2 separate regions of the Homo sapiens genome follow, and region 1 is linked to region 2. The links come from fine-mapping of genetic effects on gene expression. A gene starts in region 2. The other region holds a variant in brackets. All regions are shown on one strand. Distances are between the middles of the regions. Region 1 overlaps CENPE (centromere protein E). Region 2 holds the start of BDH2 (3-hydroxybutyrate dehydrogenase 2).

What was found. PIP is the estimated chance that this variant, and not a neighbour inherited with it, causes the effect. A credible set is the group of variants that fine-mapping cannot tell apart.
Region 1: its variant is the best candidate, but not a certain one, in a credible set for the expression of BDH2 in whole blood (INTERVAL, PIP 0.88).

What each region holds. Positions count from the first base shown.
Region 1 is chr4:103,133,061-103,137,462 of GRCh38, reverse strand. It overlaps CENPE (centromere protein E), which reads left to right. Exons shown (of 49, transcript NM_001813.3): 40 at 1,104-1,322; 41 at 3,571-3,768. Among named protein-coding and RNA genes, the nearest start is that of BDH2, 35 kb to the right of the region's middle. The variant A/C (reference allele first, on the strand shown) is at 2,410.
Region 2 is chr4:103,097,736-103,102,137 of GRCh38, reverse strand. BDH2 (3-hydroxybutyrate dehydrogenase 2) reads left to right here and starts at 2,304. Exons shown (of 10, transcript NM_020139.4): 1 at 2,304-2,355.

The DNA of each region.
Region 1 (4,402 bases), 35 kb before region 2:
TAAAGGGCTCATTCTTGTGAGAACGCCCTTGTTTTATTGTTTAGCAGCCTGAACTAAACATGTTACCTACTACATGATTACAGTAACTTGAATTTTACATGTTTCTCTACCTGTGCTCTGACCAGTGTGTCACCTGCATAGCCTCAAGTCACTTGAGTCTATGGGTCCAGATTTATTGCATGTCTACTGTATGCCAGGTACCATACTGGGTGCTTTACCTCATGATATAGGCTTTATTGCTCCATTCATAAACAAGGAAACTGCCTTCCTCAGAAAGGAAGTTTAGCAGTTGCCCAAGGTTACACAGCTAGTAAATTGTTAGAATCAGAATTTTAAACTAAGTCAGACTTGTATCTGACTTAGTTCAAAACTTGGGTATAGAAACATGTTTATAAACATAATTTTGTCTCCTTCAAGTTAAATGACTGTGTCTGTTTTATAGATTACATAGGTATATAGGTATAGATCATATATTTTACTTGACCCCAGAAAACTTTGTGGTAATTATTGTAGTCTTCCTGTTGTTGTGAAAATGGCTCAGTGACTTCCCCAGTCAAGAAGTGGCAGAGCTGGAACCTGAACTCTACCTCTGATAAAGGGTTAGAAAACAGATTGTAGGCAGATAGTAGGATTGTGTGAAGTATCTGTACCAAGCTGACAAATAGGTGGTTTGATTCTTAATCACTTGTTTTATCTGCTAACTCAGACTGCCTACTATAAACATAAACCAGCACTCAACCATGAACTACAATACATACTTAATTGAATTTACTCAAATTTCTCATCAGACTTTGTCAATGTTGATTCATATCATGGATATTCAAAAAACTAAAAGAAAATGCATCAAAATGTTAAGAATGGTTGGTCCTGGCTTTCTTTGTTATATTTGCTTAAATTTTTTAAATTGCCATAATAATTATCTATTATTTCTGTTATCCAAAATGACAACAAGAGTTTCCTTTTGTTTTTAGACACAAAGGTCTTTATTTCTCTCCTACAGAAAATGTTAAAGCATAAGTTTTGTTACAATTCTAGAGTTGTAACTACTTATTGTGATATTAGAATGAATTGTTATAAATTGAGTGAATTCTCATTTCCTTTAGGAGCTTTTGAAGAGATACTCAGAGATGGATGATCATTATGAGTGCTTGAATAGATTGTCTCTTGACTTGGAGAAGGAAATTGAATTCCAAAAAGAGCTTTCAATGAGAGTTAAAGCAAACCTCTCACTTCCCTATTTACAAACCAAACACATTGAAAAACTTTTTACTGCAAACCAGAGATGCTCCATGGAATTCCACAGAATCATGAAGAAACTGAAGGTACCATCTTTTTTAGTAATATCCTTTTAAATATTTCAGTTATAAACATCAATGTATTTAAGTCCTGCTTCAGGTGCCGGCATATTTGCTATTTAGTATTCTTACTACCAAATTAAAGATTATGTGGGTCTGAGCATAGTAATATGTAGGATATCAGCAACACCTGAACTCTGCCTGTGGGCCTAGACATTATGTCAGGATGTTCAGGAGGCAGATGTGAGTTAACATCTCAAAGATCTCATAGTCTGGGGTGAGACAGACATATAAACAAGTATTAAGTGCAATGATAGAAGTGTATGCAAGTTATATGACGTACTAAATAAAATTACAGAAGATGAAACTGTAGTAGAAGCCAGACTCAATAACAAAGCTTGGAGTTCTTTTTGTAGATGGGGAATCATTAGACTATTGTTTTAAGTGGTGGTGGTAACAGGATCTGATTACCACTTAGGTACTAAACTAAAGAATACAGAAGAAATGAGTTTGAGGGAGATAAGCCTAGTAGCAGAAAGCAATAAGAGGCAGTTACAGTGGTCCAGATGAGATATTATATGTGACTGTACTACTAGGGAGGGTTTCACAGGGCTGGAGAGGACAAACGAGATTAAAGAAATATTTAGCAGCTTAAAATAGTAGGTCGAAATAATTGATAGTGGACATAAGGGAGAGAAGTTTAGATGGAGTTCTTGGATTTGGGCTTAGTCAGGTTTGTCGATAGTGGTACCATTAACTGAGATTCAAAAATAAAAAAGAAAGAGAAACAAGGTAGATGAGGCAGGAGATTGTTTAATTTGAGATGTTTGGGGGCTGAAATACCTATGATGGAACATCCAAGAAGAGAAACCAAGTAGACATTTAGATTTGAGTTTGAGGTTTGGCAGGAGAAAAATAAGAACTAACATTTGAGACTGATCAGCATATAGGTGATAGATAATACATTTGTAAGATCATCCAGAAAGCATAATGAAGACTAAGAGCCTTGGGATAAAAACAGAACTCTGGAAAAGATAAATGTCTAAGAGGCAGTAGCAGAAAAGGGAGCAACACATGGGTTCAAGGTTGGAAAAGTCAAAGATACAGGAGAGAA[A/C]CTAGCAAAAGTACTGCTACCCAAATCAGTGGAGAAGAGTATGTCAAAGATGAAGTTATGAGTGGCAAATACTTCAGAGAGTCAGAATATGGACTGAAGATATTCTCTCAATGTGGTGATAATAGAACTCATTAGTGATCATTGTCAGAGAACAGTTTCAACTGGGTAGTTAAGGAAGAGACCAGATTATAAGAGGTTAAGGAATGGTGGAAGTTGAGGAATAAGTAAGCTGGTATCTGCCCTACCTGGGTAGATTGCCCTTCGGGCCCTGGTAATTCTTCCACAAATCCTGGTAATCAGACATCTAGAATTATTCATGAAGTCCATGAGACATTTGGCATTGAAATTATTGTCTCTTGAAGCCAAATATCTAAATATGCTTGACAAGGAAGTCTTTTTTTTTTTTTTTTTTTTTTTTGAGACGGAGTCTTGCTCTGTTGCCCAGGCTGGAGTGCAGTGGTGTGATGATCTCGGCTCACTGCAAGCTCCGCCTCCCGGGTTCACGCCATTCTCCTGCCACAGCCTCCAAGTAGCTGGGACTACAGGCGCCTGCCACCACGCCCAGCTAATTTTTTGTATTTTTAGTAGAGACAGGGTTTCACTGTGTTAGCCAGGATGGTCTCGAACTCCTGACCTTGTGATCTGCCCACGTCAGCCTCCCAAAGTGCTGGGATTACAGGCATGAGCCACCATGTCCGGCCGACAAGGAAGTCTTGAGGCATGTAACTTCATCTTTTTGGTTACCCAATCAGCGTTGGCAGGAGAGGATGTTGAAAATGAGTCTCATGAGTTTAACTGGGAAACCTGGGTGATTGGTAATGTAATTAGCCAAAAACTGGGCAATAGAAAAAGGAGGACTTGTAGAGAAAGGGATCATGTTACGTTTTAAACATGTTGAATTTGAAGTACTTGTAAGACATCCAAGAAGTATATCTGGTAAGAAGTCAGAAATAAGGAATTATAGGTCTGGGAGTTAGTTATTCTCCTAAGATACTAAGAGGAAAAACTGGGGATAGAGAGAAGCTCTTTCCCTTTTCCTCACTTGTGAGAGGATATAGGTAAATAAGAGATGTCATCCTACCTCATAGTCTCAAGGATGAAAACTTTCTCTACATGTGACAAAATTTTCATTTACCAATTTGTTTAATTTTTTTCTGCAAGTATGTGTTAAGCTATGTTACAAAAATAAAAGAAGAACAACATGAATCCATCAATAAATTTGAAATGGATTTTATTGATGAAGTGGAAAAGCAAAAGGAATTGCTAATTAAAATACAGCACCTTCAACAAGATTGTGATGTACCATCCAGAGAATTAAGGGATCTCAAATTGAACCAGAATATGGATCTACATATTGAGGTATAATTTATTTTAAATGGATTTAGTTAGATTTTAAGCCTTTTTATCAAGTAGAAAGGTACTTTTTCATGTGCTTAGAGCTATTTTCATTTACCAGAAATTAAAAATACGTTGCAGAGTGATACCTGGCCAGACATAAAGACTGGCAAATAATGGACTAGCCTCTCTTCAGACCTCAATAGATACAGGAAAACTTATGTCTATGCTGGGAGTCAGAAACCGCTTTATTACAACAACTCCACATGGAATGTGTTACTTGCATTCATCTATGTGAGGCTGGCATCCAATTCCCAACATGTATGTAAGGTCTGCTATATGTACTGAAAAGCTACATTTAGAAGCACTTCATGAAGCCAGCCCCAGTGGCATGCCTGTAATTCCAGCTACTTAAGAGGCTCAGGCAGGAGGATCACTTGACTCCAGGGGTTCAAGATCAGCCTGGGCAACATAGTGAGACCATCTCAAAAAATAAAAATTAAGATGCACTTCAGGTATTGTAGCAATTAGTCACAAATTTGTCATTTTGACAAGCTTTAATTCTAATAGGTACAATCTGTTACATCATGTATACTGCCAAAATTATATTATGCAAATAACTAGAATAAAGTTTTAACTTACAATTATATTTCTTAGT
Region 2 (4,402 bases):
AGTTCCGGAAGAGAGAGAATTCACCTTTTCTCTGCCTTTTTGTTTTATCTGGGCCCTCAGCCAATTGGATAGTGCCTGCCCACATTGGGTGAAGTAGATCCTTACCCAGTTCACTGATTCCAATGCCGATCTCTTCCAGAAACACTCAGAGATGTCCCAGAAATAATGCTTACCAGCTCTCTGGGGATCCGTAAATCCAGTCAAGTTGACACCTAAAATTAATTATCACAAACATTGTCTTGAGAGCCTGGCAGAATTATATTCAGGAAACTTATTAAGAAACTGCCATTCACTCAGCAAATATTTAATGAGCATCTACTATCTGCCAATTACTGTTTTAGGCACTGAAAGGCACTACCAATGTGGAACTCATATTGTAGATAAGAAAACAAGTAACTAATACTCTTTTAATACGAGCTAATCACAATGTAAAGGTGTAAAACATAGTCCCCACCCTTGAAGAAATTTAGTCTGCTGAGAATACTAATGGGTAAGCAAGTATTTGCAATACCATGTGACTTAGGCTGTTATCAAGTAAGCATTGTTGCTGAAGATTACAGAGGGATGCTGAAGAAAGCTACATCAAGAAGCATTGGAGTTGGCTTTGATTAGAGAACTCTCATAAAGTCTGTTCCAAAAGCCTCAAAAGTCAAAGGGCATTATTAGTAAAGCAGGAACAAAGCTAGATGTGATTACAGATTGTTAGAGCCAGCATTAGAAGTTGCTGAAACAATGAACAAGGAGGGACAATTTTACCATAGACCTCATATAGACACATGCAGAAACTAAGTCCAGTTTTTAAAAGAACATTAAAAAGCGCAACTTTTACCATCCATTATAATTAAATTTCTCCAACAATGTCTTCATCATAAGAATCACTAACATGTATTAAGCACCTGTGTGGCAAACATTGTGCTGATGGATTCACAGGCTTAGTCGTTCCTCCTCACCACATCCCTGAGGTAGGTGCTATTTTACCTTCATTTTACAGATGAGAAACATAAGAGGTTCAGAGATTTAAGTGATTTACTCACTTAGCTAGTGAGAGAGAGATATGGGACTTGCTCTAGTCTTACTGACGCCACAGTCTTTGTTCTTATCCCCTGTGACTGTTAGAAATCACTTAGCTCCATGTAACAAAAAACGTGAAAAACACTAAAGTTTATTGTCCTCACATAAGAAGTCCAGAGGAGTTGTTGCCTTGAGGCTGTCATCAGGGCCGCAGGCTCCTTCTCTTGCTGGTCCCTGTCGTTAATGTGTGCCTCTGGCCTCAGATGAACTCACTAAATGGCTGCTCTGTCCCACGGCATCCTATCTTCATTCCAGGCAAAAAGAAAGGGAGGAGCAAAAGCTAAAAGCCTTTCAGAAGGGCTTACTTTTCTATTTAAGAAGGAGGCCCTCCTCAGAAATTCCCACCTGCATTTCATTGGCAACATCTATGCTGCTTGGCCACCCCTAGCAGCAAACAAGGCTATGAAGTAGAGACTTTTGTTTTCCAGCTTTGACAAGTGAAAAAAGGGGAAAGTGAGTTGGATGGGTGCTGAGGAAACCAATTTATACAGTACATGTACAAGTAGCCTACACAATCACTCTGCTCACTGGCACTACAGATAAAGCACATGTTGCTATCCTAACCTAGAGGGCTCATGAGATCTAGTCCTTTCTTTTTGACCTTATATCTCTGTTCTCTTCAGCCAAACTGGGGTTTTTCGCTGTTAACATGTTCCCTTTTAAGCCTCCACCCTGTCATCCAAGTTTCACGTTCTCCCCAACCCCATTCCCAGTGTAGTAAAAGGCTCCTGGCATTCTGCCACTAAATGTGCATTAGTGTTAGAATATTCTGAGCATGAAAAAATAAAAATCACAACTGTATCTCAAACAAAAAGGATTTTTTTTTTTATTTCTCTCCCTTAAAACAATCCAGGCCAAGTGACAGGAAGGCTCCAGAATTTTCAGTGACCTGGGTTCCCTCTATTTTGTTGCTCTGCTATCTTCCACACGCAGTTTCCAGCTCAGCCAATCTCGTCTACCCTGGCACCGCATATAGTAGGCATAAACAAAACAGAGAAGTGGAGAGACTGAAGTGAAGGAAATGATTTCCGCATCCTAAGTAAGCTCTAAGGTGCTTTTCCACTTTTCACCTTCCACTTGGAATTCATAGTTCTACCTGAATTCCACTAGATGGCAGCACATACATTTATAAAGTGTATGGATGGAGCCACTAAACTCTGAAAGCAGGGAAACTACAAATCCCAGCATGCATTATTAAGCGCTTGACTTGCTTCCAGACAAAGGTTGTCTCAAGTTTGTTGCTCAAACCGAGTTCTGGAGAACGCCATCAGCTCGCTGCTTAAAGTAAGATTTCCTAATACTTTTGAAATGAAACTTTAGAACGGAAAGAGGGGAGGTTTAATTTTTAGATGTTGTTTTTTTCTGCACGTTGCCTGTTTCAAAATTAATCTGAGCAGTTAGATCAGTGTAAAGATGGGTTTTTAAAGAGCCTGAAACTCTGTGGTATGTATGTTTTATAAAGTAGCCCAAGAAAAAAGGATTCTTACGGTATCCTAAGTGAAGAGTTTTCTTCCTGGCTCTTGAAAACAATGGCTTCCTGAATATGCTGTTTGTGTCTCTGCTAATCAAAAATCAACATTTTGATTCTAACTTTTGGACTAAGGAAGCCAACATGTATGGTTTTCACATTGGATATATTGAGAGGTGCCTTGTTTTACCATTTCAGGCCGTGTTTGCTCTCATTTTCTCAAAGAAATCTGTTTTAGTTTGAGATTACAGTTTATCAAATGTTAAGGCTTTGACCCCAAAATCTGGTCCCAGAAAGACAGGAAGGCCAGCTAAGAGGAGGTTTTCAGAGTGCATAGAAAGGCTGCTCTGTGCTTCGGCATTTGTTCTGGAAGTGCTTCTTCGGTTGGCAAAGATTCCTAGCAAAACCTTTGACTGGAGGCTTTACAGGGCCATACACCCAATATCACTAATGACAGTGTTGTAAAATAGCTTTTGTGCACCATGCTTAGGATTCAAGGAGGATAAAGTATATCTTTCTAAAGTTATACTTTAGAAACTGTCATTCCATGTTGAAATGATAAACATTCCATGTTTATCTTTTGTGTAAGAAGTAAAAAAGCAAAAATTCATTGCATCAAAGTAGGTCAGGCACTGTTAAAGCCAAGCTTCCCCATCGCCTAAAAAATGTGGACAAACTCAGAGGAAGTCAGTGATTATAAGCTGATCCCTGGAGCCAGTTCTTACATAATTGTGTTAGTCTGCTCCTCCAAGAAGCAGACTCCAAGATAGAATTAAATATGCATGGATTTTATTAGGGGAAATGCTGTTGTGAGAGAGAATGAGGAGAGAACTAGGTAAGGCTGTGAGAGCCATCAGACCTCGATGCAAGTCCACCCGCGAGGGAGGAAAAGAAGGAAACCAGGTTGAGTGGAAGCATCCCAGACAGCTGTGCAGTCTAAGAGAACTTCAGCAAGGTAATAAGGAGCTTCTCTAGCCAGTCATCCGTTGGGGAGGAGGTCTATGTCTCCCAGAAATGAGTCTGCCTTAGTAAGCATGCATGCTCAGGCACTGGCTTGTAACGGCCCCGAGAAGGTGGCCTCAGCACAAACCCAGAGAGGCAGCAGCAGCTGCGCCTCATTGTCCATTACTTCCTGGGGTCAGCGGTCTGCGAGGCACAGGCTCCTGGTGCCACAGTGGGGATTTAGAGAGGCCCGCAGGGCTTTGAGTACCATGAGACAATGCCATGAGATCTTCCCTTGGACCTGCAACAAGAAGGCCTAGGTTTGAATTCATAGCTGCAAAACACTGGGCAAATAACATTTCTTTGAAATTAGCCACGTTGGTGATCAGGTCCTACCTATCTCATCTCTGAAACACTTCTCCAATCCACCTATCTCTCCATCCCTGCTATTTTCTCCAGCCCTGCTATTTCACCAGCGCCCCCACTAGATAACCCTAGCAGCCTCCTAATGGCACCCCATGCTCCTGCCCAGGTATGTTCTCCACAGCAGTCCTTCCAAAATACGAATCTGATCATTTCACACCCTTTCCATAAATCCTTCAGTGGCTGTTGCCTATAGGAGTAACTTGCCCTTCACCATGTGGACCTTGGACCAAGTGTGGAGGTTTGAAATGGAAGAGCATATTGGGTATAAAAAAAAAAAAGTTTGGCTAAAGAGAGAACTGAAATAAGTTCAAAGAGAAAGGACTAGGTAATATAAGCCCTTTAGGCAAGGCTATCAACCTGTACAAAATCAGGCAGATAATGGAACAGAGTGATTGTGTAGGCTAGTTTGCATGTACTGTAAGTTGGTTCATCAACACCATCCAACTCACTTTCTCCTATTCTTCACTTTATCAAAGCTGGAAACAAAAGTCTCAA